Homo sapiens: one gene and its partners. The protein of the gene in region 1 purifies or fractionates together with the protein of each later gene. This does not show direct contact. Each region holds a gene or a part of one and is shown in the gene's direction. Other genes may lie near its edges.

Evidence for each region.
Region 2: the proteins of DENND1A (region 1) and TANC2 purify together in Homo sapiens (affinity purification with mass spectrometry, with the first as the bait; one large-scale study listed by BioGRID). This does not show direct contact.
Region 3: the proteins of DENND1A (region 1) and SYDE1 purify together in Homo sapiens (affinity purification with mass spectrometry, with the first as the bait; one large-scale study listed by BioGRID). This does not show direct contact.
Region 4: the proteins of DENND1A (region 1) and DCLK1 purify together in Homo sapiens (affinity purification with mass spectrometry, with the first as the bait; one large-scale study listed by BioGRID). This does not show direct contact.
Region 5: the proteins of DENND1A (region 1) and RASAL2 purify together in Homo sapiens (affinity purification with mass spectrometry, with the first as the bait; one large-scale study listed by BioGRID). This does not show direct contact.
Region 6: the proteins of DENND1A (region 1) and GIGYF2 purify together in Homo sapiens (affinity purification with mass spectrometry, with the first as the bait; one large-scale study listed by BioGRID). This does not show direct contact.
Region 7: the proteins of DENND1A (region 1) and AGAP1 purify together in Homo sapiens (affinity purification with mass spectrometry, with the first as the bait; one large-scale study listed by BioGRID). This does not show direct contact.

What each region holds. Positions count from the first base shown.
Region 1 is NC_000009.12:123,927,327-123,931,550, reverse strand, and holds the start of DENND1A (DENN domain-containing protein 1A), read left to right. Parts: upstream 1-1,424; 5' UTR 1,425-1,626; coding exon of another isoform or gene 1,627-1,645; coding exon 1,646-1,662; intron 1,663-1,885; exon of another isoform or gene 1,886-2,894; coding exon of another isoform or gene 2,895-2,956; intron 2,957-4,224. UniProt on the Homo sapiens protein: Guanine nucleotide exchange factor (GEF) regulating clathrin-mediated endocytosis through RAB35 activation. Promotes the exchange of GDP to GTP, converting inactive GDP-bound RAB35 into its active GTP-bound form.
Region 2 is NC_000017.11:62,969,235-62,972,734, forward strand, and holds part of TANC2 (protein TANC2), read left to right. Parts: intron 1-3,500. UniProt on the Homo sapiens protein: Scaffolding protein in the dendritic spines which acts as immobile postsynaptic posts able to recruit KIF1A-driven dense core vesicles to dendritic spines.
Region 3 is NC_000019.10:15,106,273-15,110,200, forward strand, and holds the start of SYDE1 (rho GTPase-activating protein SYDE1), read left to right. Parts: upstream 1-1,128; 5' UTR 1,129-1,161; coding exon 1,162-1,249; intron 1,250-2,783; coding exon 2,784-3,125; coding exon of another isoform or gene 3,126-3,431; coding exon 3,432-3,928. UniProt on the Homo sapiens protein: GTPase activator for the Rho-type GTPases. As a GCM1 downstream effector, it is involved in placental development and positively regulates trophoblast cells migration.
Region 4 is NC_000013.11:36,110,883-36,114,382, reverse strand, and holds part of DCLK1 (serine/threonine-protein kinase DCLK1), read left to right. Parts: intron 1-2,167; coding exon 2,168-2,514; intron 2,515-3,500.
Region 5 is NC_000001.11:178,475,104-178,479,350, forward strand, and holds the end of RASAL2 (ras GTPase-activating protein nGAP), read left to right. Parts: 3' UTR 1-3,747; downstream 3,748-4,247. UniProt on the Homo sapiens protein: Inhibitory regulator of the Ras-cyclic AMP pathway.
Region 6 is NC_000002.12:232,700,331-232,703,830, forward strand, and holds part of GIGYF2 (GRB10-interacting GYF protein 2), read left to right. Parts: intron 1-254; exon of another isoform or gene 255-324; intron 325-3,093; 5' UTR 3,094-3,159; intron 3,160-3,500. UniProt on the Homo sapiens protein: Key component of the 4EHP-GYF2 complex, a multiprotein complex that acts as a repressor of translation initiation. In the 4EHP-GYF2 complex, acts as a factor that bridges EIF4E2 to ZFP36/TTP, linking translation repression with mRNA decay.
Region 7 is NC_000002.12:236,120,043-236,123,542, forward strand, and holds part of AGAP1 (arf-GAP with GTPase, ANK repeat and PH domain-containing protein 1), read left to right. Parts: intron 1-149; coding exon 150-405; intron 406-3,500. UniProt on the Homo sapiens protein: GTPase-activating protein for ARF1 and, to a lesser extent, ARF5. Directly and specifically regulates the adapter protein 3 (AP-3)-dependent trafficking of proteins in the endosomal-lysosomal system.

The sequences.
Region 1 (4,224 bases):
TGACAGTTTGGACATTTTCACTTTTTTTTTGGTTTTCATTTTAAAAAGTTTACCCTTTGACTTCAACAACCTAAAGGCAGAGGCAAAAGGGAGAAACTATCTTTATTCAGAAGGTGACTCCAACAGAAGAAGTCTTCTACGACTTATCTTCTGGCTTTCTTTCCTCCCATCCTGGCCGGGAGCTAGGACGCAGGACCAGTTACGTAGAGGCTATGGGGTGGGGGTAGGGTGGGGAGGCACTCCATGCATTTATAAGAACTAAAATGGCAGAAGTGATGAATGGCATTTCGGGACAGAAAATTGGAAAAAAAAAAAAAAAAAGGAAAAAAAGCCTAATATTAAAAATGTCTTTGGACTTGTGGCCAAAGGTGCCACCTTAAAGCATGACTATGTCACAGGTGTCTGGAATGATTCAGTCTGGACACTAATCTTGGCTTCTTCACTCGTTGCTAGTTATGTGACCTTGGGAATGTGGCTCAGTTTCCTCTTTGTAAATTAGGGAGATGAACACAGGATTATTGTGAGGATTGGCACTAATGATGTACGGAAATACTGTGTCTGATGCAGAAAGGGCACTCACCCGCTCATTAAAGGGTGGCTAATGGTAGCTGTGATTATTGCTTCCTTTATGATCCCTCTGGCCCTAGAGGGGATGAAATTGAGGTGTTCATGGAAGTGAATCCCAAGGGGGAGCAGGGGTAGGTAGCAGGCTGGTGATCTCGGCTCTCAAATCCTTTCATTTGCATTGAGTTAATCTCTATCAGGGACTGTTGTGTTAACAGGAGGCTTCGATGTTGGAGTTCCCAAAACGGCTGATAAAGGGAGGCAGAGGTCCTCAGCGGGAGGGCAGAGCTGAGCCACCACGTGGGTCCACGAAGCCCCCAGGTGGCTTTCCTGTAGGTATGTGGGGTCTCCTTCAAGCTCTAAGGGGAAAGGAAGAGGAAAGGCCTTCAGATGGGGAAGTGGACGGTGTGATGGAGAAGAGGTTCTGCACGGAACTTACTGGAAGGTGCGGGATGTTAAAGGGAAAACGTGTTTTCATGGAGGCCTGGGCGGGGGATTAGCTCTCCGTTAGAGAGGCTGGGTGGGAGGCCTCCAATGGGAGGATTGGTGGCGGTTTCATCGGGAGGGCTTGGGGTCTCCATGAGAGGATTAGGGTCTCTTCAGGGCGGCTGTGAGTGGAGGTTTCCAGCGGGGCGCAGTGGGGTGCAGATGTGTAAGGGCCTGCAACGGAACGCCAGAGTCCTCCGGGGCCCGCGCCCTGGGAGACGTGCGGGTGACCGCGCTCCCGCCCCGCCCCCACCGGCCACGGCCCCGCCCCCGCGAGCGGACTACACTTCCCAGCAGCCCCAGCGGGCAGCGGCGGCGGCAGCGCGGGCGGGAGGGGCGGTGGTGAGAGGCGGAGGGGGCGGCGCGCGCCGGGCACGCGCGCCGGCGACCATGGCGTTCGCCGGGCTGGAGCGAGTACATTAACCCCTGGAGGCGGCGGCGGCGGCGAGGGAGCGAGCCTCGAGCGGGCGGGCCCCAGCCTGAGGGAAGGGAGGAAGGGGCGGGGAGAGCGCCAGAGGGAGGCCGGTCGGCCGCGGGCGGGCGGGCAGCGCAGCGCCGAGCGGGGCCCGCGGGCCCATGAGGAGGCCTGGGGACCATGGGCTCCAGGATCAAGTGAGTGCGGCCGGGCCGGGCGGAGCCGGGCCGGGCGCGGGGCGGCGAGGCCGGGCCAGGGCTGCAGGCCGCGGGCCGCGCGGGGGACTTGTTGCCGAGACCAGAGGGGCGCCCCGCGTGACGCCGGCACGCGGGGAGGGGGACGGTTGCTATGGCGATCCAGGGAGGCGCGGGGGCGGGGTGCGCGCGGGGTGGCAGGGCGCCGGGGGTCAGGTGTCCCCTCCTCACCTGGGGGTCGGAACAGCTGAGATTACAGGGCGGCCCCCTCCCCGGGTTTACGGAGAGCCCCTGAAAATGGTCCTTCAACTGTGGGGAAGGGGAGTGGGAAAGCCCCGGAAGCACCTCCCCATGTTTGGGCATGTTTGGGGCGCCCCTGAAAGTTGGCAGGTCCGGAGAGGTTGCAGCCTGGCCGCTTGAGGCCTGCGGCCCCCACAGAAGTCGCGTGAGGTTCTTAGAGGGAGGGGCCGCTCATGGTGTGGCCACCTAAGGTGTGGATGGCCGGGGAGGAAGGCCTGTCTCTCTATTTCCCCCCTCTTATCTGTGAAAATCTCCACGCAGCAAGGTCCAAAGGCTGTGAAGGAGGATACCTCTGTGTTGTAACCGAGCACCTGCTCTTGATAATCGTTGGAAAGGCTTTGTAACTCAATCTGGCGAATTCCCTCACTCATTCATTCACCTGGAGTTCCCGGTGGAGGGTTAGCTTTCCGGGGAAATTGTTGATACATGTAACTTCAGAATCCACTGAAACATTGTTGCTGTCCTTGTAGACTTAGAAGTTGACTTTGGAAAGTGCAACTCTTAAGCGGTCCAATTTGGGTGTGTGGCTTTCGACTCTATCTCCCCTCCCAGCCAGGTCCTCTTGTGGCCTCTCCCTTCCTCTGCCCCAGAACTGGAGATGTTTTATCTCTAATTACTAACAAATGTTCACTTTTTCCTCTGTGACTAATAGAATTGTTTAAGGGCATTAAAAAGCAAAGTTGACAGCATAGGCTTTTCTGTAAAACAACTTTCCTAGGACACTTTAAACCCTCTTACAAGAAAGTTTGTGGAATGTGTTTATTTCAGCATTTTGAGAATTGTACTAGGGAAGTTTGAAAGGAGAAGGGCCTTAAGGGTGAAACTAATAATTATTCAAACATTGCATCTCATGTCCAGGTGATGCCCGTGCAGTGTGACCCTTGCCCAGCCTTGCAGTCCCCCGTGTGGTTAGGCTTCTCATTTACAAAATATGTATGAGATGCGCTGCAGCAGCCTTGAGACATCTGCTGAATGAAACTAGAAAAGTTTGCTTATGGTAATGAAAATGGAAGAGTCGCATGAACACTCTGTTAAATCTTTATTTTTGTGGAAATGAGAAAAAAGTTAGAAGCATGCTCCAAACAAGAGCTTGAGAGGCTTGGGAGGTAAAAAGATGTCGTTTGTGAAACATTGGGATTAAAGAGGCACTCAAGTTTAGCTCCTGCTTCCAAGTAAGAGTTGTAAACTTGGATTTCAATAGCACTTAGAAACACTTTCCAGAAGCCAACTTAGAGTTGCAGAGTATGCGTGAGGACACTTACCCTTCTTGTTACAGAAAAGTTCAGAAACTTGCCTGACATGAAGCAGTGAGTGTCAGAACCAGTATTAAAATCCAGCAAGTAAAAGTTCAGATGGCTAGCCATCAAATCTCTCTGTTGCTCTCCAAGGTAGCAGGTTGACAAATACATTTCTCAAATGTGTTTTGTGGAACCCATCGCTAATTCTGAGCACTTGGGTTAGGGAATTTACTAAGGCATGGAATTGTATTAAGCGTGAAATGAGTATGAAGAATAGCCTTATTGATCTTGAAACTAGACTACTCTGTGATAAAAACTTAGGCTTGGGAAATATGTTAGCTTGTGGTGAAACCGAAAGAGAATATGAAGAGAGAAGTTATGAAAAGTAGTTGTGATTTATAGTGACTGTTGATTATGCAACTTCTGCCTGTAGCTAGGAATGGGGATGGACAGGAAATTACCCACTTAAGTGCTCCTCTAGTTGTTGGAGAAGACAGAGCTTTGGTTACTACTGGCTGGCTTTCCCTCCTGGCAGGGCATTCAAGATGTTCTCCTGGCTGTGGTGAAATCTAAGTGTGCAGGTTCCATTGAATAGGACAGTCTTGGAGGTAGGGACAAGGGGGAGGGGTTCCTTTTGTTTTCTCTTGCTTATCTCTGATGCAGCAAGTCAGTTGACTAGGTGGAATCAGGTCTAGGTTCAAATTCCAGCTCTTTTTAATGCTAATTATGAAACTTTACACAGACTGCCTTTTCAACCTCAGTTTCCCTGAAGGTAAAATGGGGAGGACTGTGTCCAGGTTGTAGGGTTATTATGAGCATTGAACACAGTATCAATGTAAATGTCAGGTCCATGTTAAAAACTCAGTAATTGTTAGGTTTTTTTCTTTTTTTTCACCTTCTGTATCAAAAGACTAAGAACATTACTGTATATTAGAAATGTCAGAGAAAGGTATGTTTAAGGTAATGGAGAAGAAAATTTTAATGACCAAGGAATTAGGCTGTTAACATGCAGAGTAGGGCTTAACAT
Region 2 (3,500 bases), on another chromosome or scaffold:
TATGTGTTGTTATTTCTGTTTTACAGATGAGAATCTGAAACACAGAGAGGTTAAATAACTTGCCCAATACTATATAGCTGAGAAGTAGAAGAGCTAAGTTTCCATTTAGGAATGCTAGCTCCAGAACCTGTGCTCCTCATCAATATGCTATATTGCCCTCTCACTCAAGGTAGTATTGGCAAGGCATAATTAAAATGCATGTGCCCATCATAAAGCAAGTACAATAGATGTGGATAAACCTGGACAACTCACATAGATGTTAAGTCTGCATATATACAAAAGATACAGTTATTTGCAGTGTGAACATTTCTCTTTAGGAATTTGTTTTTTAACTTATTTCTGGGATTATGCGTAGAGGAGTATTAGTACTTTTTATGTGGTTAAGGAAATATTTGTGATGGTGGTTGGTTTGAAGGGAACTTCAGAGGTAAAAAGTTAATTTCAAGTAGTTTAATATAGTGTGTGTGTGTGTGTGTGTATATAAATACACATTCATACACACACACACAGCCTTTTTAAGAGCACCAGTAAACCTTTACTGCTTATTTTCTGTAGGGAAATTAAGGATAAATTACAATATTTTTCTTCCTACTCATATTTTTATGACCTCTTTTTCATTTATATTAAAAACTACCATAATTAGCACAAATGGATTAGATGCCTATGTACATTTTACCTCTAATGTCAACAAATGTTTGTTCAGATTTTTCTCACACTTAAACATTGTTTTATAAGATATTGACCACATATGACAAAGTATTTATAAAAATGTGTAAAATATAAAGACTTCACAATGCAGCCAACACTTACATGCCTTTTACCCAGTTTAAGAAATGGAACATCATCTTTCACAATTATAATAGTTATTTTCTTCTCTTAGCCAAATTGCTTCTGCCATTCTTTTTCAACAGAAACCTTTCCTTATTGTGCTGCGAATTGCATATCTCATGTAACCAAACACTTCCCTTTTTATATACATTTGTTGATATGGGAATTCAATATAATCTACTGCTTATGGCTAAAACTTATTCAGCATATATGCTTACGTAATTTAATATATTTAATAAATTGTCATACACTCAGACTATGCTTTGTATTTGTATTGGTTACTGGTTGGTAGTTCATTTTAGCATACTTCACTTGTAAAACTTAATTTGGTTTGCAAATTAGGATTTTACTAACATTGTTAAACATTAATAGATTATTTCCCTCTTCCATCATGAATTCTTGACTGTCCCACGCTAGCTCTGTTTTTTCTTCTTTTCCCCATAACTGCCTTTGCTCTTTATTTCTTAAGTGAGTATGAATTATTTTGAATGGAGAGGGAAGGAGACCCTAGAAAGGAGTATACTAATCCAGTCATTTCAAAGGGGACTATTAGGGTAGTTGGTACTGATTGAATATATGGTAGAACAAGTGTGCATAAAAGAAATGCATGAAAATCCTCTCCTTGTCATATTTCTTCCTTTTACAGTAGAATTAAAATGAGATCTGAGACACTCTGATTGGGCACACTAGCTGAATATTGTTGGATTGAACTTACCCAGAATCACCAATGTTAGCTGGGATATTTTTGCTGACAGTACAATATGCAGATTTTAATTCAGGGAGCTAGAACAAGCTGTTGCAGAGGGCTGTTTACTCTTCTAGTACTAGTCTAATCAAGGCACCAAATATTATAAAATAGTTTGGAAGCTAGTTCAATTATTTGGACTTTTTTTTTCTTTCTGAATGACTTGAGACTCAGCATTGTTATATTTGCTTAATGTGCCTGTAGTCATCAAATGCTGTGATTATTTTGAGGGAAAGGCACTCTGTAAATATACTATACAAATAAATAGTTTAGACTTCGTTGTAATACCGTGAGAATACCGCTTGGTTTCTTTGAATAGCGTCTTTTGTAGTAACTTGCATTAGATGAAGACCGTTTAAAATGAAAAAAAAAATGAGTTAAGGAGATGTGTGTATGGTGATGCAGAGTGTATATCCCTGATGAGTTTCTTGAAAAGGCCACGGAGAGAAATAGGTTAAAGAAGAGCTTAAAGACTAGAGCTGTGTTTTCCCACTCAGCAGTCTCCTGCTGCCCTTCGCTTTCCCTTTCTTTTCTCTTTTCAAGACAGGATCTCACTATGTCTCCCAGGGTAGGGTGCAGTGGTGTGATCTTAGCTTATTGCAGCCTACGTCTCCTGGGCTCAGGCGATCCTCTCACCTCAGCCTGCTGAGTAGCTGAGACTATAGGCACGTGCCACCATATCCAGCTAATTTTTGTACTTTTTGTAGAGACAGTGTTTCACTCTGTTGTCCAGGCTCATCTCAAACTCCTGGACTCAAGTGATCCACCTGCCTTGGCCTCCCAAAGTGCTGGGATTACAGGTGTGAGCCAACTGTGCCCAGCCAGTTTTCTTTCTTTTAGAGCAGGGGTCTCTAACCCCTGGACCATCATGGCCTGTTTGGAACCAGGGTGCACAGCAGGAGGTGAGTGGCTGGCCAGCCAGCATTACTGTGTGAGCACCTCCTCCTGTCAGATCAGCAGCTTCATTAGATTCTCATAGGAGCTTGAACCCTATTGTGAACTGCTCATGAGAGGGATCCGGGTTGTCCGTCCTTATGAGAATCTAATGCCTGATGATCTGAGGTGGAACAGTTTCATCCCCAAACCATCTCTGCCCCCCTACCCTCTGGAAAAATTGTCTGGAAAAACGTCCCTGTTGCCAAAAAGGTTGGGGACCGCTGTTTCAGAGGACATTTTACTTTGCGTATTTAAGATTCAAGGTAATATTAGATGGAGAACAGGAACTTTGGGTCTGAGTTTTAGAAGGCTAAAGCAGGTTACGCAATTAGTGAAAAAACTTTCTGGGACCTTTTTTTTTCTAGAAGGGTCAAAGTAACTATAATACCATAATTTTTTCTGGAAACAAATTTATTAGGTCAGTTTATTTTAAAAAATCTTTATAAATTATGTGAAAGCTGTGTTTGTGGATATGTCATATAAGTTGTTTTTTTGTTGTGGGCCACACATGACGTATCTTGTTATGTTCGGTCTCTTGTTTGCTCTTGAATAGTTAAAGGTAAGCATTACTAAATTTAAGAGTCAAAATAATTGTGTTAGTGTTCTATTATGCCTTTTCTTCCCCGTAATATCAATTTCTGTCTTTATTCACTACATGGTTTATAGTGCATCTTAAACTCCTTTCTTTGTTTATCAGAACTTAAGAGAGTCTCATGTCACTCATTTAAACTGAGTAGTTGCATTATAGAAATGATCTTGTTGGTGTGTTTTTTTAAAAATCCAATTGCTGAGGAAACACCTTTAGTGTTTTTGTCAACTTTGCCTACATTTCTTCCATTGCGTTGCTTCCAGAGTGATCTTTCTAGATAGTCATTTGATCATGTCACTTTTTTCTTCAGAATCTTTCACTGGCTCCTCATCACTGAATGGATAAAGTGGAAACTCCTTAGCAAACCGTTTAAGGTCCTTAATGATCTGGTCCCTGCCTCCT
Region 3 (3,928 bases), on another chromosome or scaffold:
TCTCATGTGAGCAGAGGGACAATTTTGAGTTCTGCCTGTCCTTCATCCATAAGGAATTTCCTTGTAGGCAAATTGTGGGGGAGGTATGTAGCTTTTTTTTTCTTTTCTTTTCTTCTTTTTTTTTAGACGGCATCTTGCTCTGATGACCAGGCTAGAGTGCAGTGGTGCAATTTTGATTCACTGCAACCTCCACCTCCCGTGTTCAAGCAATTTTCCTGCCTCAGCCTCCCAAATAGCTGGGATTACCAGTGCCCACCCACCATGCCTGGCCAATTTTTTTTCTTTTTCATATTTTTAGTAGAGATGGAGTTTCACCATGTTGGCCAGCCTGGTTTCGAACTCCTGACCTCAAGTGATCCGTCGCCTCAGCCTCCCAAAGTGCTAGGATTACAGGAGTGAGCCACCGCGCCCAGCTAGCTTTTTTAACCTTGTAGCTATCTTACTTAGGAATAGAATGGGAGGCAGGTTTGTCCTACACAGTTACCAGTTTGACTTCTTCCTTTTGGCTCAGTGATTTGGAGGTCTCAAGATTTATTTTCCTTTCACAATCACGACATGGTTGTTTTACATCATTACGTTTGGGGATGGTTTGTCAAACAGCAGTAGTAATTGGAATTTGGAGGTGAGAGAATTGAGTGGGGAAAGAGTGGCATGGGGAGACCAAGGAAGAAGCTTGGGGTGGGGTGGGTAGTGGGGACGGTCATTGAAACGAATGACACTACGGCTTGCACCAGGTTGAAGCAGTACCTGGCAAGGAGAGAGAGGATACGTGGAGGCTGCGATTTGGAGACAGACCCAAGAGAACTTCCTGGATGCCATCACCCAGAGTCCCATCCAGGGAGGGTGGGTGAGGTGGAAGACAAGGGATCGGGCCTGCGCCACGATCGTCACGTCCCATCGAAGCTGGAGCGGATCCGGGCACCCGGAGCCCCCATTCCAACCCCTCCCGGCCCCAGGCAACTACATCTCCCAGCATCGCCCGCTCGGGCCGCGGGAAAGGGGAAAAAAAAAAAAAGTTTGGGCCAAGCATTCCCGGAATGTGCTTCCTGCTGGCGCGGGGCGGGGGGCGGGCGGGGAGGCCCGGGCGGGGCGGGGAGGGCGCGGGGCGGCGCGGCCGGAGCCCGGGGCGCGCACTCGGCTCGGCCCGGCCCGGGCCGCAGCATGGCCGAGCCGCTACTCAGGAAAACCTTCTCCCGCCTGCGGGGCCGGGAGAAACTTCCCCGGAAAAAGTCGGACGCCAAGGAGCGCGGTAAGCGGAGATCGGTGGGGAACAGGGGGCGCCGAGCCCCACCCGGCCTGGGAGCGGGGTCCCAGGGCCCCGAGGACAGACGGTGGGGGGGATCAGGGGGAGCCCCCCGCACCCCGCTGCAGACTGGGGTGCCTCCAGCCAGGGGAGGGTAGGGGTCCTGGAAGGAAGGGGCTGGGAGGGAGGGGGGCGCGGACCGTTATGTGCTGCTGGCCGGGGATGCCAGCGCTGCGGGCTCCTTGGGAGGCCCGGGAGGGGGCCTCGCCCACGACAGGAAATGGGGCCGCGACTGAGGGCCTGGAGGGTGGAGGGGAGGAGGGGCTGGGAGGCCGGGACACTGGGGCCCAGTCGGGCTGGGCAAGGGGCATCGGGAGCCCTGGAGGCGCAGGATGGGAGATGGGAGGCGTACTCCTGCAAAGGAAAGAGAGGGGCGGCCCGTCAATCAGAGTAGCTGCCCCCTCCGCCTCCCACCTACTAACAGTGACGGCAACTGCGCCTGCCTTAGCCCCAGGAAACTGTCCCTTTTATACAGATGGGGAAACTGAGGCACGGAGCAATTGGGTCATGTGCCCAGGGCCATCGACTTAAACAGCTCTTTGGACTATGCTACAAACAGAGACCCTAGAGGGTGGACATCAGAGGTGGCCAGAGGAGGAGTTCAGCAGGGTAGCAAGTAAAAACCTTAGAGAAACAGCTGCGTGGGATAGGGGGACCCAGGAAGGAAGGAGTTAAAGGAGGAAGGCCAGACCATTCCATGGACGTACCCCTTCCCCCCAGGCCTTCCCAAAGATTCCCAATGTTCCCAGGGAAGGGAGAAGGGACAGAGATGCCCAAACACAAACACACACAGGAAACAGCCCAGGACATGAGACAGGAGAGGAGGGAGGGAAGGGGAAGTCCCAAAGCATTGAGCGTGGGGGGTCTGGCCTGGGCTGAGGGACAAGGGCCCATCCCAGGATGGCGACAGAGTTTGGAAGACAGGAGGGAGGGTAAAAGGGGCAGGGGACTGGGAGTGACTGTGCTGCAGGGAATAGAAAACCCAGCTCCTCACTCCTGAGCACGTAGTGCCTGCTGTGGGCTGTATACTTTTCCAAAAGGCTCCTGGAAGCCTCCCTGGACATGGAAATCACATCCCCCCATTTCACAGGAGGATACTGAGCCTCAGAGAGGGAAGCGACTTGCCCAAGGCCACGCAGGTGCAAAGCTCCATGCCACGGTTATTGAGAGGGTAGAGGAAGTGGAGACTGGAACGCAGTACCTACGGGCCCCAGGAAGCCTGACTTAGAACCCTGAGGCTGCAGGGATGGAGTCCCCTTTTGGGATGCCAGGGACTGAGTAGGGGGTGCTCTAAGCTGATAACTGAGATCGCTAGCCTGTGGCTGCCTATTCCAAACAAAACAGCAGGATCCAAGGAACCATGACTTATCAGGGGCCGGCCAGGGCCGTACACAGCATCCCACCCACTGATCAATTGCACAGGGCTGCTCTGCAGGCAGTGAGGGGCTGGGTGGGTCTCACTCCCCTTGCTCTCTGCCAGGCCACCCAGCCCAGCGCCCAGAGCCCAGCCCTCCAGAGCCAGAGCCCCAGGCTCCCGAAGGGTCCCAGGCCGGAGCAGAGGGGCCCTCCAGCCCCGAGGCATCAAGGAGCCCTGCACGGGGAGCCTACCTGCAAAGCCTGGAGCCCAGTAGCCGCCGATGGGTGCTGGGTGGGGCCAAGCCAGCTGAGGACACCTCTTTAGGGCCTGGGGTACCTGGCACTGGGGAGCCCGCCGGCGAGATCTGGTACAACCCCATCCCTGAGGAAGACCCCAGACCTCCAGCACCTGAGCCCCCGGGGCCACAGCCTGGCTCAGCTGAGTCAGAGGGCCTGGCCCCCCAAGGTAAGAACAAGCTTCCCATCCCCTTCCCCAAGGTGAGCACCAGCTCCACATCCCTTCCCTTCAGGGTAGCACCAGCCTCACACTCCCTCCTCCCAGAGGAGCACCAACCTCACACTCCTTCCCTTCAGGGGAGCACCAGCCTCACATCCCCACCCCGTCAGATGCTCCCAGAGGAGCATCAGCCTCACACCCTCCTCCCCGCCAGGGGAACACCAGCCTCACACTCCTTCCCTTCAGGGGAGCACCAGCCTCACCCCCCTCCCCTAAGCCCAGGTTCCTGGACCCTGAAGTCTGCTCTCCACACAGGTGCAGCCCCCGCCAGCCCCCCAACCAAAGCCTCCCGCACCAAGTCCCCGGGCCCCGCCAGGCGCCTCTCCATAAAGATGAAGAAGCTGCCGGAACTGCGGCGCCGCCTGAGCCTGCGAGGCCCCCGGGCTGGCAGGGAGCGCGAGAGGGCTGCCCCTGCGGGCTCCGTCATCAGCCGCTACCACCTGGACAGCAGCGTGGGGGGCCCCGGGCCGGCAGCAGGGCCTGGGGGCACCCGGAGCCCGAGGGCCGGTTACCTCAGCGACGGGGACTCACCGGAGCGCCCAGCTGGGCCCCCATCACCCACCTCCTTCCGGCCCTACGAGGTGGGTCCCGCAGCCCGGGCACCCCCGGCCGCACTCTGGGGCCGCCTCAGCCTGCACCTGTACGGTCTCGGGGGGCTGCGGCCAGCGCCGGGGGCCACCCCCAGGGACCTCTGCTGCCTACTGCAAGTGGATGGGGAGGCCAGGGCCCGAACAGGGCCACTGCGAGGGGGG
Region 4 (3,500 bases), on another chromosome or scaffold:
GTCTTTAAATCTGATTATCCAGCAGAGGAGCCTCACATTTACAGCTCAGATTAAACACATATTTCTTCTGATCATTGTTGCTTGAACCAAACCAGCAACGCCTTCTCAGTGTAACTGGAGAACTTTCTTATGCTTTTAAACATTTTCAGGGTGCTTTATCTAAGAAGATATTTTTAAAAAGTGTTTATTTTCTCTTTTAACAAACTCACTCCATGTTGCTATGTTCTTTAAAACTGCTCCCTCTTCTAATTTAATATATTTTTAAAGTTTTTGTTGAAATGTAAACTGCTCTCTGTATCTTTGTTTTGCTTTTAGTTATTAGCTTAGTATAGAAACTTATAAATAATCAGACAATTGCATATCTTCAGTTAGCACAGAATTCTGACAGAGGCTAGCTTTGCCAGCTCAGTTACATGCTGTGTGTCTCACTGGGGAGTGTTAGGGCATTCTCACATTGACATGGACCCAACGTGGTGTCCACTGGTAACTGTTCAATATAAGACCTGCTTACCGATTTCTAGTAATTTTGTTTTTGAATTTTTCTTTCAGGCTTACTGCACGATTAGGGTATGTAGCCTCAGGTCATTTTCACTCACATAGCAGGTTTGTATTTGAGATCACTTTGATCTCTATCTTCTAATTTGATCTTCAGAAAAACCTAATGAGGTTTTGTTTTATAGATAAATAAACTACCACCCAGAAATCTGAGGGACTTGTCCAAAGTCACATGCTTGGAGAGGCCAGGTCTTGAGCCCGAATTTCCAGTTCTCTCTTCCCACTATCATGTGCAGGTCATCACTCCATGAAAACTCCCAAAACACTGCTGTTTCTATAGTACCCAAATATGCCTTTCTCAGGATTTAAGAAAATATCAAAAATACATATAAGTTTTTGATATTTACTTAAATCCTGAGGAAGGCATAGCTGAGACAAGTCATGATCTGCCAGGTGAATAGAAATGGGGTTGGTTAAACTTGCACTATTCATACAACTTCTAGTGAGGCATAATGTGTATGTATACACATTAGAGAATATTTTAAGAACATCTGCAAAACAAGTGTTCAGTAACATGTATAACTGCTCTTTTTAACTTTTGAAGGCCTGCTTCAGTTATTTTTATGTGACTACTTATTCTTTGGCCTTGGATGCTTGCACTGTGAATTTAAAAATAATACAAGGACTTAGATAAAAGTCAATGGGCTGTGTTAGATTAGGCCTCGGTCATTTTACCTACAATTATGAAGGTCTTTCAGCATTTTTACCTATTCCTAGTTACAAAAACTTATTAACACAGAAAAAAAGCCATTACAAAATCTTTAATTTCAAAAGGCTTTGACCTAACTTTATGAAATATGTATTTAGAATTCGTCATTTTACAATTTGTTGTCTCTTGGTTCATGTTTTTCTTTTTTGTGTGTGTGATCTACATCTACTTAATAGTCTGATTATTTTCATTAAAAGATTTCCTGCTAAGGAGTCACTTTTAATAAACATTTACTTATATTTATTTTAGAGCCCATTTTTGAAGCTGTAGTTTGTATGTTGAACACTTCTAAAACCTCTTACTTATGAACAAGTATGAATTGACCTTATAGTATGTGTGGATCACTGTGATTGGCACTATATAGATGAGAGAAAGGAAGGGTGATTATTTGCTTGCTTTTGGAACTTTACTGGGCTTTACAAAATCTTTAGCATCAACTCTCATCAAATTCGTAAATTATATGACTATTTTAAGATGCTGTATTCTGATTCATTCTTAGTGTTTAAATTATCTCAGGTAGCAAATGGAGGTACTTCCAATTTTGAAATTTTCTGCAGATTTAAGTATCTCTAATTCCCAAAGAATATTTTCTATTTTAAATTCACTTTCACACTTCTCTAAGGTCTTTTCAAGTAGATCAGCATTTCTATCACCGACCTTAAGATGAGGAAATGGAGGAATAATGTTTTGTTTTGTTTTTCCAGGATGTGGATCTGTTGCTGACAGTGCCAGATTAGCAATCAGAAATCTTTCTTTTTCCCTAATTATTAATCACACTTCCATTGTTTGAAAAGTCAGGGCTAGCTCTTGCCCCTAAGCAGAAAAGGCAAAAGAGAGGATAAGTAGGAAAAAAGAAATGGGCATATTTTAGTATAAATTTAAATATATTTCTCTCTTCCTTAGGAGAGAGTTATGTATGTGGCTCCATAGAGCCCTTCAAGAAACTGGAGTACACCAAGAATGTGAACCCCAACTGGTCGGTGAACGTCAAGACCACCTCGGCTTCTCGGGCAGTGTCTTCACTGGCCACTGCCAAAGGAAGCCCTTCAGAGGTGCGAGAGAATAAGGATTTCATTCGGCCCAAGCTGGTCACCATCATCAGAAGTGGCGTGAAGCCACGGAAAGCTGTCAGGATTCTGCTGAACAAGAAAACGGCTCATTCCTTTGAGCAGGTCCTCACCGATATCACCGATGCCATCAAGCTGGACTCGGGAGTGGTGAAACGCCTGTACACGTTGGATGGGAAACAGGTAAGAGACATATTGTGATGTGACTTTGACTTTAAGGCAAGAACCAGGGAGTCGGAGGGTGTACGTGGCTAAAGCATACATTTTGCTCAAGTTGTTAAAGGGCCTGGGTCACTTGATCAACAAATATGTACTTGCTGGCCCTAGAACAGTCAGAAGTTTGAGTTGAGCAGGATTATTCATAGGAATAAAGTAAGAAAAAAATGCATATCTTTGAAGATTAAATAATTACTCAGTGATTTCTACTTGTTCATTTATTATTTGCTTAACATAATGATTCTTTTCTGTCATCTGTTTTCAGTTTTCTCATAGATCTTATAGCCTGAAGAATGAATGACTGAGGTGTGAAAGTAAACTCTGACCAGTAGGGAAAATTCTAACTTATTTCTTTGACCTAAATATTTTATGATTTTAAGTCTTTGTAGTGTTCGCTAGTGAGATTTACTTACATTTTATAGATTTTAAAATATGTATCTAAGAAATGACATATTTCCATCTGGATAGCTTTAAAGGCATATTTCTAGAATAGTACGCATCTTGTATTTTTCAGTGTTAAAATGAAAGGGAGGTTTTTCAGCTACAGAATGAACATCAGTTGACTTGGATGGGTGGTCATTTTAATGTGAGTTGGTCAGATGAACCCAAAGGAAGCATCACCTTTTATTGTCTTGGGTGGACTATTTTTGTACAGGTTTGACAGAACCTTGATGGTGAGTTGAATTAAAAAACATTGATTAGGGCCGGGCACGGTGGCTCACGCCTGTAATCCCAGCACTTTGGGAGGCCGAGGCAGGCGGATCACGAGGTCAGGAGATCGAGACCATCCTGGCTAACAGGGTGAAACCCCGTCTCTACTCAAAATAAAAAAAAAAAATTACCTGGGTGTGGTGGTGGGCGCCTGTAGTCCCAGCTACTCAGGGGGCTGAGGCAGGAGAATGGCGTGAACCCGGGAGGCGGAGCTTGCAGTGAGCCGAGATCGCACCACTGCA
Region 5 (4,247 bases), on another chromosome or scaffold:
TGTTGGACCTTACGTTTCAGCAACCTCACCATGGCCACATAACCCACAACCTTTTAAAACAGTTTCTTTCATAGCAATCCCTGTTTCTGCCAGACAGATCTAAAATGGGAGTTTCTCACTGTGTTTATCTGATCTGCACACTTTATATCCAGCTGTTTTGGCACTTTTACGTTTTCTTCACCTTTGGTTTTGGTTTGCAAATTCTTACACCTTCTCTCCAAGCGGAGGGCACACTGTGGTCAAAATCACTTATTTTATTAGGAAAAAGAGGTAACTGTTCCAAAGTGTAGTGTCCTTTGTTGAAGGAGGAGGGATGTAAGCATAGATTTGTTCTTGTTTCTGGCTATTCTCAGCTCAAGCCATGTTTAATTCATTCTTTGTAAAAGCCTTCAATTGTGCCACAGAAAACCTGGTAAGAGAATTGTCAGTTTCATTGGCCATAAGTATGTAATGTGGGTGATGTCTTGCCATTGAGGTTTGGAAGCTCTTAAGTGCCGATTATGGATTACAGAGGGCTGATAAAATTACTTATATTGGGAATTGAGAGAAGCCCCAAAAAATCAAATGTGCTTTTGATGGATAGAGTGTATCTTATTAGCATTATGGGAGCTCCTTAGAGGGCTGTCTTCACTGAAAGATTTAATGCCCAAAACATTTGGACAGATTATGCAGCCTTCTACTACCAGGTTATCTTGAATGAAGAAGAAATAGTAAAAAATAATAATAATAGAGCATTACCAATAAGCTAAAAGTTCAGAGTTGCTGATAGATGTTAAATGTTAAGTTATCCTGTGAGCCTACTCCTGTCCAACCTTTTTTCTCAGTATTTCTTTAGAGAATGCTGCAATCTGTATAAGTTACTCTGAAGGATTTTTTAAGAAGAGAAGCCACCAACAGGTGATAATTTTTATGGAGATGTTTCTTAATTGGCTTTCCCTCAGTTCAAGTAGGTAAATAACTTTGTTTGCTGGGAGGAGGTACATGGCTGAAGAGAGGCAAATAGATTAAGATAGCAATGTCTTGCACTTCCTGTTTCCCTCAAAACAACACCACATTGTGGGGCGCAGGATAGATCAGGGTTGAGTGGAATTTGGAATTCAGGTGAAGTGCTTGTAAAGTGCATGTCTAGCTGACAACAGACTTGACCATTAATGAGGACAGTGTTGGTAGGAGTCAGAAAAGAGCTTCATATTCCCCTTTTATATTACTGAAGCAATAAGCAATCTGAGCTGAAGCAGCAAAAAGAGTCACATTTCCATCAGGTCATCATATTCCCTGAGTCTCTGCAGCAAAAGCCATGTCAGAGGGGAGATTATAACTAGGTAACTATAACAAGCACTTGAGCACTTACCATGTTCCAAGCACTATCACCAAGGTACTGTTGGGGTTTATGGCAGTCTAACGGTAAGAAAAATGTGGTAAAATGAGGTAATCATGCTGCTATAGCTTTTTGCTTTTTTTCATATAGTATCAAGTTGGTCAGAATTAGCTTTCTCTGACTGGTCTGCTTCCGTGTTTCTCTGTGATGGTGTTAAGATTATGAAAGAAAAAGAAGATTACCTAAGACTGCTACAAGTGTTAACTATATGCCCTTAAGAATGAGCTTGACTTTGGAAGTAAAGCTTTTCAGATCTTAGTCTACCCGGGGCCTTTGTTGATGGGTCTGTGGTTCTGTAGACCCCTGGCTTTCACTGTGTTCTCAGAGGTACACCAGATTGAGAGCAGAGTTCTTCTTTGGAAGTCCCAGAGCAAAATAACTGCCATCAAGTGAGTTTGCATTCGTATTTGTTTCCCCTTCCATAGAGGGTTAGTTTTAGTTACCTCTAGCTTGGAGTTCCTGAGAAGGCTGGTTATAGGACTGAGCGTGGGAAAGGAACCCTCTTCAGGATTACCTCAGTCCCATCAGTCTACCCCATTGTGACATTGAGCCCAACACACACGCTTGACACCAGACTAGACTTGTCACAGGGCCAAACCCAACAGCCACATGCCATAGCTTCACTGCATTTTCAGCTACACCTTTGGAGGCCACCTTCTCCTATCAACTGTGGAAAGCCAGAAGGGCTCCCTTCTCCATTCTCCTTCCCTTTTTCAAGTCTAATAGTGAAATCTCCTGCTTACCCCAGCAGTAAATAGTTGCCTTCCTACCCCTTACCTGGGGGCCGATAATTTGAGATACTTTGTTTTTTCAATGCGTCAGTTGAAGGATTTAGTTTCTTAAAAGCAAGAAATGTTGGAGTGTTGAATTTTTAAATAGAATCTCTTTTCATGTTTGAATGATTGTTATTAGTTCTAGAAGCATTCTCTTTGTCATGACCCGATTATGTATACTCTTGGGTTTAGGAAGGACAAAAGTGATGAAATTTGCATGAGATAGAATAAATATCTTAGGAGGAGTGAAAGAACCTGAGGAAGAGACACGACCCTAAGGGAATGAATGCATAAGCAGTCTTCTCAGTAGCCCAGAGTTTCCAGGAAACAGGAATATTTATATCCCTTGCCCACTCTTAAAATACATAGATACATAAAAAGGCAGTCTCTGTAGACAACACATGCACACACCCACACAAAACATAATTCCTGGGGCTTCCTTTTTCTGAATGTTAATCCATTTTATCGAGCAGTGATTCCCAAACTTTGAGATTTTCAGATTTTATGCTCTCGTCTGTTAGATTTTATGACATTCTATCATCCTAAAAAATGTACTATATGTGTTATATGTATATATAAGTTAAAGCAACTTGAAATTGACTTGGTTTGGCATTGTCTCAAGAACCCTAGATATCATTATTGATACCATGGGGAATCATAGAAATAAAGTTGAATATCATTGATCTGAGAGTAGGATCCAGAAATAAGTAGTTTCAGTTCCTGATCAGTTAAGCCTCAAGTGTTTGAGTAACCAACACAGCAAGACTTGGGAAATGCAGTGAGCACCCGAGGAAAGGAAAGTGGTAGTCTTTGCCTGCATTTCAGCATGCATTTTCCTTTCCTACTCAGTTGCTATCTTCCACTTAAATACCCTCATTTGACCCTAGGAAGTTTTTTGTTTTTTTTTTTAGTTTGAGACTTAAAACCAGATTTATTTGTTGTTGTAGAGAGATTTCCACAGAAGTTGTGTTTTAGGGACCTCCATCATCTTTGTGGGGGTACAGATATTTATGTGTAAATATCATTTTATGTGATTTCCAAATTTTCGAGGGAAACATTTCAATTCCCAGTTCAACAAAAGGTTAAATACTAATTGACTCAATGACCACCTTCAGGAAAGTTAAATAGTAAATTAGGTTAAATTTTGACTGGTGCTTAGACATTTCCTAGTTATATTAACTTAAGCAGACAGCAGCACATTAACCTGAGTTACACCTGTGAGGAAATGACCTTCTAAATTTGATTTTGTTTTTCATCTCCAGGGCCTTAATAAGAGTGTGTTAACACACGACTATTTTACAATGATAGCTCTAAATAATTTATTTTTTATTTCAAGAAAGAGAAATACACCTTAGAAAAACAAAACCCAAGATTTTATTTTATTTTTAAAGCCATATTTTTGTGCTAGTAGCATTTAGATTATTCCGTATGTGAGATCCGTATCAGCATTTCATTACCTGGGTTTGTTCTAAAGAAGATTTATTTTTGTTCTGTGAATAATTTTTGACAGTTCTTGTACATGTACAGATATAGATACGTTTGAGGTCTTTTATTGATATTCCTACAAAGAATACAAATAAACTTTAACTTTAAACATTTCAGACTAAAGTTGCTACTATATTTGACATATTGCTGTCTTCTAGCATGCACCTGGGTGACTAGGACACTTGAAGAGAAACAAGAAAGGAAATGTATGCCGGAATATTCTTCTAAAAATATATTTTAACATTAAGAACAGTCTGTCCTAGAATTTCCCAACTTCCATGTAATAAGATTTCAATTTAGGAAAAATAACTAGCATTAGCATGTATTGTGATAAAACTGTTACTTTCGAATTCTGCAGAATTTGAAATCTCTTTAATAACTTGTGACAGGTAAAGAAAGTTTCATCTGGTTTATTAGGAAATGTAGCCCCACTTAGCTTCCTAGACCACTACCATCCTCTTGTAATTTTCCAGTTAGATTAATGGGGTTTGTTTTCAGGATTTTTGATGTTTGGTTCAGGTTTTTTATTTTAATTTCTTAATAGAAGTTCATTTGTCATTCCCAACATGATTGTTCCCAAATACACCCATCTTCTCCTGCATCCCTGTTTC
Region 6 (3,500 bases), on another chromosome or scaffold:
ACTCTGCATTTTAATACTCCATATTGTCTCTTCTCTTTTTGTTGACCTTCACATTGGAAGATGACACTGTTGATAGTGATTGCTATCTGGGAGAACCTTTTTGGGTAAAAAGATTACTACTGTCGCTTTTATGATTGCCCTTCTGTAGGATCTTTGACTTGTGCCATTTTCAAATTTTGACTTTGTTTGCAGTTCTCCATTAGCTCCTGCTGATTAAATTTCCCATACTTTCTGTTTTATTCTATTTCTTATAGATTATAGTGGGACCAGTCTCATTAGGTTGAATCTACAGCCTATGTTGGTGTTAACCCAGGTCTCTTAGAGGCAAGTTAAATGTCCATTTTCCTTCAGTTTAAATTACCATGGCATATTGTTTGGTCATTGTTGTAACAGTCTGAACTCAAGCTTTTTTTCACTGCTTGATTCCCACTAGGGTTTTGTGGTGATAAAGTCCTATGGTTTTTGCATGGGAGAGTATTTAAGAATAAAAGGAAAAATATATAAAATGAAAAAGAAATAGAAGTTTAAAATAAGATAAAAAAGTCCTAGAGTTTCCATTCATTTTTAATACTTTGAAAAATTACATCTCTTTAAAACTAGAGATTTTTATTTCATGTATAAACTTGCTTATAGTTAGCATTGCAGTGTTTCTTGACCAAATATTGTTTTTACATTTTATTCATGCTCTCAGATGAATGAGAAATATACTAAATTAATTATGTAGGAATGTAAAGTGATACCTTTATTGAATTGCCTATAGTTTTGTGTGAGGTTGAAAGCAGAAAGAGGTTTGAAAAACAAAGAATGTTCTCTTAATTGACCAAACTTCATTTTATAAAGGTATTTCAAAGTATTACATACTTCCCTACTTTAAGTAAATAAGGAACACAATTTTATATTTTCTTGTTAACTATGGGGTTTCATTAAGCTTAATTATTATTATTATTTGAGATGGAATCTCACTGTGTTGCTCAGGCTACAGTGCAGCGGCCTGATCTTGGCTCACTACAGCCTGTGATAGAGCAAGACCCTGTCTCCTGGGGGTTTGGGGTTGCAGTGAGCCGTGATTGCACCGCTGCGCTCCAGCCTAGGTGATAGAGCAAGACTTTCTCCAAAAAAGACAGGGTCTTGCTCTGTCACCTAGGCTGGAGGGCAGCGGTGCAATCACCACTGACTGTAACCTCAATCTCCCAGGCTCAAGCCATCCTCCCACCTCAGCCTCCTAAGTAACTGGGATTATAGGTCCATGCCACCACATCTGGCCAATATTTTTTGTAGAGATGGGGTCTCACTATGTTGCCTAGGCTGGTCTTAAACCTCTGGTCTCAAGTGATACTCCCGCTTCAGCTTCCCAAAGTGTTGAGATTATAGGCATGAGCCACTGTGCCCCACCAAGAATGCAATTTGAGAAAGTCACATCCACTTCTGATTTAATTTTGCAAAAAAAGTAGCCATGTTATAATGTCCAAAGGTCATCCAACTTTACCCACTGAACTGTGTAATTTTTTAAGGGCAGGAGGAAAGGGAAGAAGAAATGGATAATAAACTCTTCTTTGGCTGGGTGCAGTAGTTTACACCTATAATCCCGGCACTTTGGGAGGCTGAGGTAGGAGGATCACTTGAGCCATGAGACCAGCCGGGGCAACAGAGAGAGACCCCCATCTCTAAAAAAGATTTTTAAAAAATTAGCTGAGTATGGTGGTGCACGCCTGTAGTCACAGCTACTCAGGAGGCTGAGCCCAGGAGGTCAAGGCTACAGTGAGCTCTGATTGTACCACTACACTCCAGCTGAGGGAACAAAGCAAGATCCCATTTTGAAAATAACTGGCCGGGTGCAGTGGCTCATGCCTGTAATCCCAGCACTCTGGGAGGCTGAGGTGGGTGGATCACTTGAAGTCAGGAATTTGAGACCAGCCTGGCCAACATGGCAAAACCCTGTGTCTACTAAAAATACAAAAATTAGCTGGGCATGGTGGTGCACACTTGTAATCCTAGCTTCTCGGGAGGCTGAGGCAGGAGACTTGCTTGAACCTGGGAGGCGGAGGTTGCCTTGAGCCCAGATCGTGCCACTGCACTCCAGCCTGGGCAACAGAACGAGACTCTGTCTCCAAAAAAAGAAAAAAAACTCTATCTGTCTCTATCTAGTTGCTTTCCTGTAGTTAATGAAATTGTCAACTTTAATTGTTAATTATTGTTCTTTGACTTGTTAGTAGCAGTAAAGCATCATTTGATTTTAGCCAAGAAACTATTTGAAGATACTATACTTCAATTCACTCTTGTCACTTGGAATATCACCAACTTATGGATTTTTAAGATATTGCCCCAACAGAGCATTAAAGGCAGGTTGTGATTTTGCACACTTGGAGCTTTGCTCCCTGGACATTTTGGCAATGATCATATTTCTGAGGGCTCAGTGATTATTTGCATAGGATGCATATTGCTGTGATGCGGCTTTTGTTTTTCTGTTAGATATATATTTTTTGAGATAAGGTCTCACTCTGTCACCCAGGCTGGAGTGCAGTGGTACAGTTGCAGCTCACTGCAGCTTTGACCTCCCTGGGCTCAGGTGATCCTCCTACCTCAGCTTCCCGAGTAGCTGGGACTACAGGCATGTGCCACCATGCCTGGCTAATTTTTGTAGAGGTGGGGTTTTGCCATGTTGCCCAGGCTGGTCTTGAATTCGTGGGCTCAATCGATCACCTTCCTTGGCCTTCCAAAGTGTTAGGATTACAGGCATGACCCACTGTGCCTGGCAGTAGGTTTTAAAAGTTAATACCAAGTCCCTATAATGGGGTTTTGAATGAAAACCCCAAATAATGACTTCCCTGAAACCCCATGGTGGTCTTCATTTGACAGCTTCATAAGAATCACTTAGGACTTTTGTTAAAAAATATAGTTTTCAGTCCCACTGTAGAACTACTGAGACTTTCTAGATGTTAGGGAACCTAGTTTATAAATACACCAGGTGATCTACTCTTTTAACCAGGTTTGGAAGCCATTTTCTGCAAAGTATATTTATGATGAAAGATTGTACTTTTAAAGTTTCCTAAGAGGTTGCTGGGTGATTTATATTAATATTTTTATTATTTACAGCGTTAAAAGGATCTGAACAAAGTCTGCTCAAATCTCCTGCTGTGAACCAGCAGAATTTTTGAACAGGTAAGTGTGGAAGGGAAGCACAAAGCCTGAGGGCTTTTGCAAATAGGTAATTTCTGCTTTTAGGTTTTAGTTATTTTTGCCCTATTATTTCTCCTGAGGTTTTGGGTAGTGAGAAGAAACTTCTTCCCTGGTGCCTGTCAGATCCTTTATGAACAGTAAGAGTAACATACCCTTTCTGCATTGACCCTGGTGTGAATTTGTGTCTTAAACTGTCATAATAATTTTTTGTTGGCAAGAAACAAGGAGGAATGCTTTGGAGGCAGGAGTACTGTAAAGAACCAAAGAGCAGTTGACTTCATGAGGGACATGAACCAGAAACTGGGAAGCTTTCAGGAGCCATA
Region 7 (3,500 bases), on another chromosome or scaffold:
TTCCCCCAGGGGGCTTTGTGCCGAGTGAAGACCTTTGCTTTCTGTTATTTCACTTCCCTCTCGGCTTCTCCCGACCACACTGGGCAGGGGCTGGCAGCCTGTGTTCTCGGGCCTGATCGTGACTGCACCTGTCTGGTGGCTCTTTGCAGGGAAGAGAAGGAACGGTGGATCCGTGCCAAGTACGAGCAGAAGCTCTTCCTGGCCCCGCTGCCCTGCACGGAGCTGTCCCTGGGCCAGCACCTGCTGCGGGCCACCGCCGACGAGGACCTGCGGACGGCCATCCTGCTGCTGGCACACGGCTCCCGGGACGAGGTGAACGAGACCTGCGGGGAGGGAGACGGCCGCACGGCGCTGCATCTGGCCTGCCGCAAGGGGAATGTGGTCCTGGCGCAGCTCCTGATCTGGGTAGGTGGTCGGCACGCCTGGCAGAGGACGGGGCCACAGGAGGCACTCTCTGCTTTGTTCTGCTTCCGTGGGCATCTTTCTGGCAGAAGGCTGTTGTTCTCGATCTGCAAGTGGAAACAGTTCCTAATGGGAAACTCTGATTGAAGAGCAGAGGGCCTTACGGAGAGACAGCCGGTCCTCCTTGTACAGTACTTGCTAGAGTTTCTGAAAATTGCAACTTTGTGATTGCCCCTTATCAAGCAGGGTTGGTGCTATCCCTCTTTTTTCATTTCCATCATCTTCTGGAGAGAAGGCGGTGTATTAACGGGATGGCTTGTAGGGTTTCCCCATTTCCAAACCTTTGGTGTTTTTATTCACTTAACACAGAAATACTGGACCCTAAACTTTGAGGTCTGATGTGGCAGGAGTTTGTCAAAGGACTTCTTTCGAACCATTCTGATTAATTTCTACTGGGGAAAAGTATTATTTACATTCCTATTGAAGCATGTGTCACAATGCTTGAAGGAGTGAAAGAGAAGGATAAAGTGGTTGTGCAGAGAGGCCCTGCCTGTGCCACCCAGGAGCTACGTCTGAGAAGCCACGCCCACTTAGGGGCTGCCTGTGGACCCCTGGGGCTTCTGCTGAGGCAGGTTCCCACCAGAGGCAGGCAGAAAGCTGCCGGCAGGGAGGCTCCCCAGATAGGGAAGGCAAGTGTGTGCCCAGAAGTGGAGACAGCACCCAGAGGTGGGACACCCAGCTGGAGGCTCTTCTGTCTCCACCCGCAAGGCAGGATGGGTCAGTCCAGCACAGCAGCACGTTCTACAGCAGCATGGGTAGAGTGCAGCAGGTTTCTGCATGTTTTTGATCTGACTTTTTTGTTTTTTGTTTTTTTGAGACAGAGTCTCGCTCTGTCACCCAGGCTGGAGTGCAGTGGTGCGATCTCAGCTCACTGCAACCTCCGCCTCCCAGGTTCAAGCAATTCTCCTGCCTCAGCCTCCCAGGAAGCTGGGATTACAGGTGCGCACCACCACGCCCAGCTAATTTTTGTATTTTTAGTAGAGACGGGGCTTCACCATGTTGGTCAGTCTGGTCTCGAGCTCCTGACCTCGTGATCCACCCGCCTCGGCCTCCCAAAGTGCTGGGAGTACAGGCATGACCCACCACGCCCAGCCTTGATCTGACTTTTTTGATGGGTGCAGTTGGTGAATGAGTGAGATATAGACACTACACCAAAATCACACAGATACTCCCTTTTGCTCATGAGTCATACATGTGATGTAATGCACATTAAATAAGAGTTGTGTGTAGTGTGCTAGGGCTGCCATAACAAAATACCACAGACAGGGGTGCTTCAACAACAGACATTTATTTTTTCACAGTTCTGGAGGCTGGAAGTACAAGATCAAAGGGCCAGCAGGAATGGTTCCTGGCGAGGCCTCTCTCACGGCTGGTAGACGGCCGCCCTCTCCCTATGTTCTCACAGGGCCTTTCCTCTGCACTCGCTCCTGGTAGCTCTCTCCTTTCCCCCCACCCCCTTCTTTTTGGGACAAAGTCTTGCTCTGTCGTCCAGGCTGGAGTGCAGTGGCACAATCATAGCCCACTGTAACCTCAAACTCCTGGGCTCAAGCAATCCCCCCACCCTAGCCTCCCAAGTAATTGGGACCACAGGCATGCCACCCCCATGAATGGCAGTTTTTAAAAAATTTTGTAGACTTACGTTCTTACCATATTGCCCATGGGTTTTGAACTCCTGCCTTTAAGCAGTCCTCTCACCTCGGCCTCCCAAGGTGTTGAGATTACAGGTATCAGCCTCCCAGCCCAGCCTTTTCCTCTTCTCATATAGATACTAACCCTATTGTGACCTCATTTAAGCTAATACACCACCATAAAGGCTCTGTCTCCAAATACAGTCACATTCTAAAGTACTGGGTGTCAGGACTTAAACATGTGAATTGTTGGTGGGAGCGGGGGACACAGTTATAAATTACAGGCCATCTTTGCTTCTCCAATTGAGCAAAAATTCCTTTGATGGCGCTGGTTCCATGCTGTTGAGTGGCCTCAGACTCCCACACATTGTGAGTTGGCAGAAGTGGAAGTGAATTCACTCTTTTTCATGAGCAAAAAGCTTAAAAACGTTGTGTACTTTAACCTCATATTTTCCCCCTTCTGATCATCACTCTAATAATCAATCACAGATCCTAAGAAAGATTCTATGTGAGGACATACATCCGGGCACTGTTTCTTCCAGTGACAATTTTTTTTTTTTTTTTTTTTGAGACAGAGTCTCACTCTGTCTCCCGGGCTGGAGTGCAGTGGCACGATCTCGGCTCACTGCAACCTCTGCCTCCCGGGTTCAAGCAATTCTCCTGCCTCAGCCTCCTGACACTAGCTGGGATTACAAGCGTACACCACCATGCCCAGATAATTTCTGTATTTTTAGTAGAGACGAGGTTTCACCATGTTGGTCAGTCTGGTCTCAAACTCCTGACCTTGTGATCCGCCCTCCTCGGCCTCCCAAAGTGCTGGGATTCCAGGCATGAGCCACCGTGTCCGGCTCCAGTGACAATTTTTACAAAGTGTGCACAGTTGAGGGGAGAGTTCTGAATTCTGTTCATGTGGTGGAATACTGTATGACTTGCATATGTCATGCTTTTTGAGGGGTGGGGAGACAGGGTCTCACTCTGTTGCCCAGGCTGGAGTGCAGTGGTGTGATGTCGGCCCACGGCAGCCTCTGCCTCCTAGGCTCAAGCGATCCTCCCACCTCAGCCTCCTGCATAGCTGGGACCACAGGCATATGCCACGTGCCCAGCTAATTTTTTTAAAATGTGTTTTTTTCTAGAGACAGGGTCTCCCAGTATTGCTCAGGCTAGTCTTGAACTCCTGGGCTGAAGTGAACCACCGCACCCAGCTTGTGTTGTGCTTCTGAGTAATTTTTAATGATGTAAGAAAATGATCACAGTATAGTAATCAATAAAAAATGAAAAAAATACAAATTATTTGTACAGTCTTATCTCAATTATGTACATATACATGTAGATTCAAAGAAAACTCATTGAAAGGAAATACACTAATTCACAAAGGTTATCTCTAAGTAGTAAGATTATGGGTGATTTTTT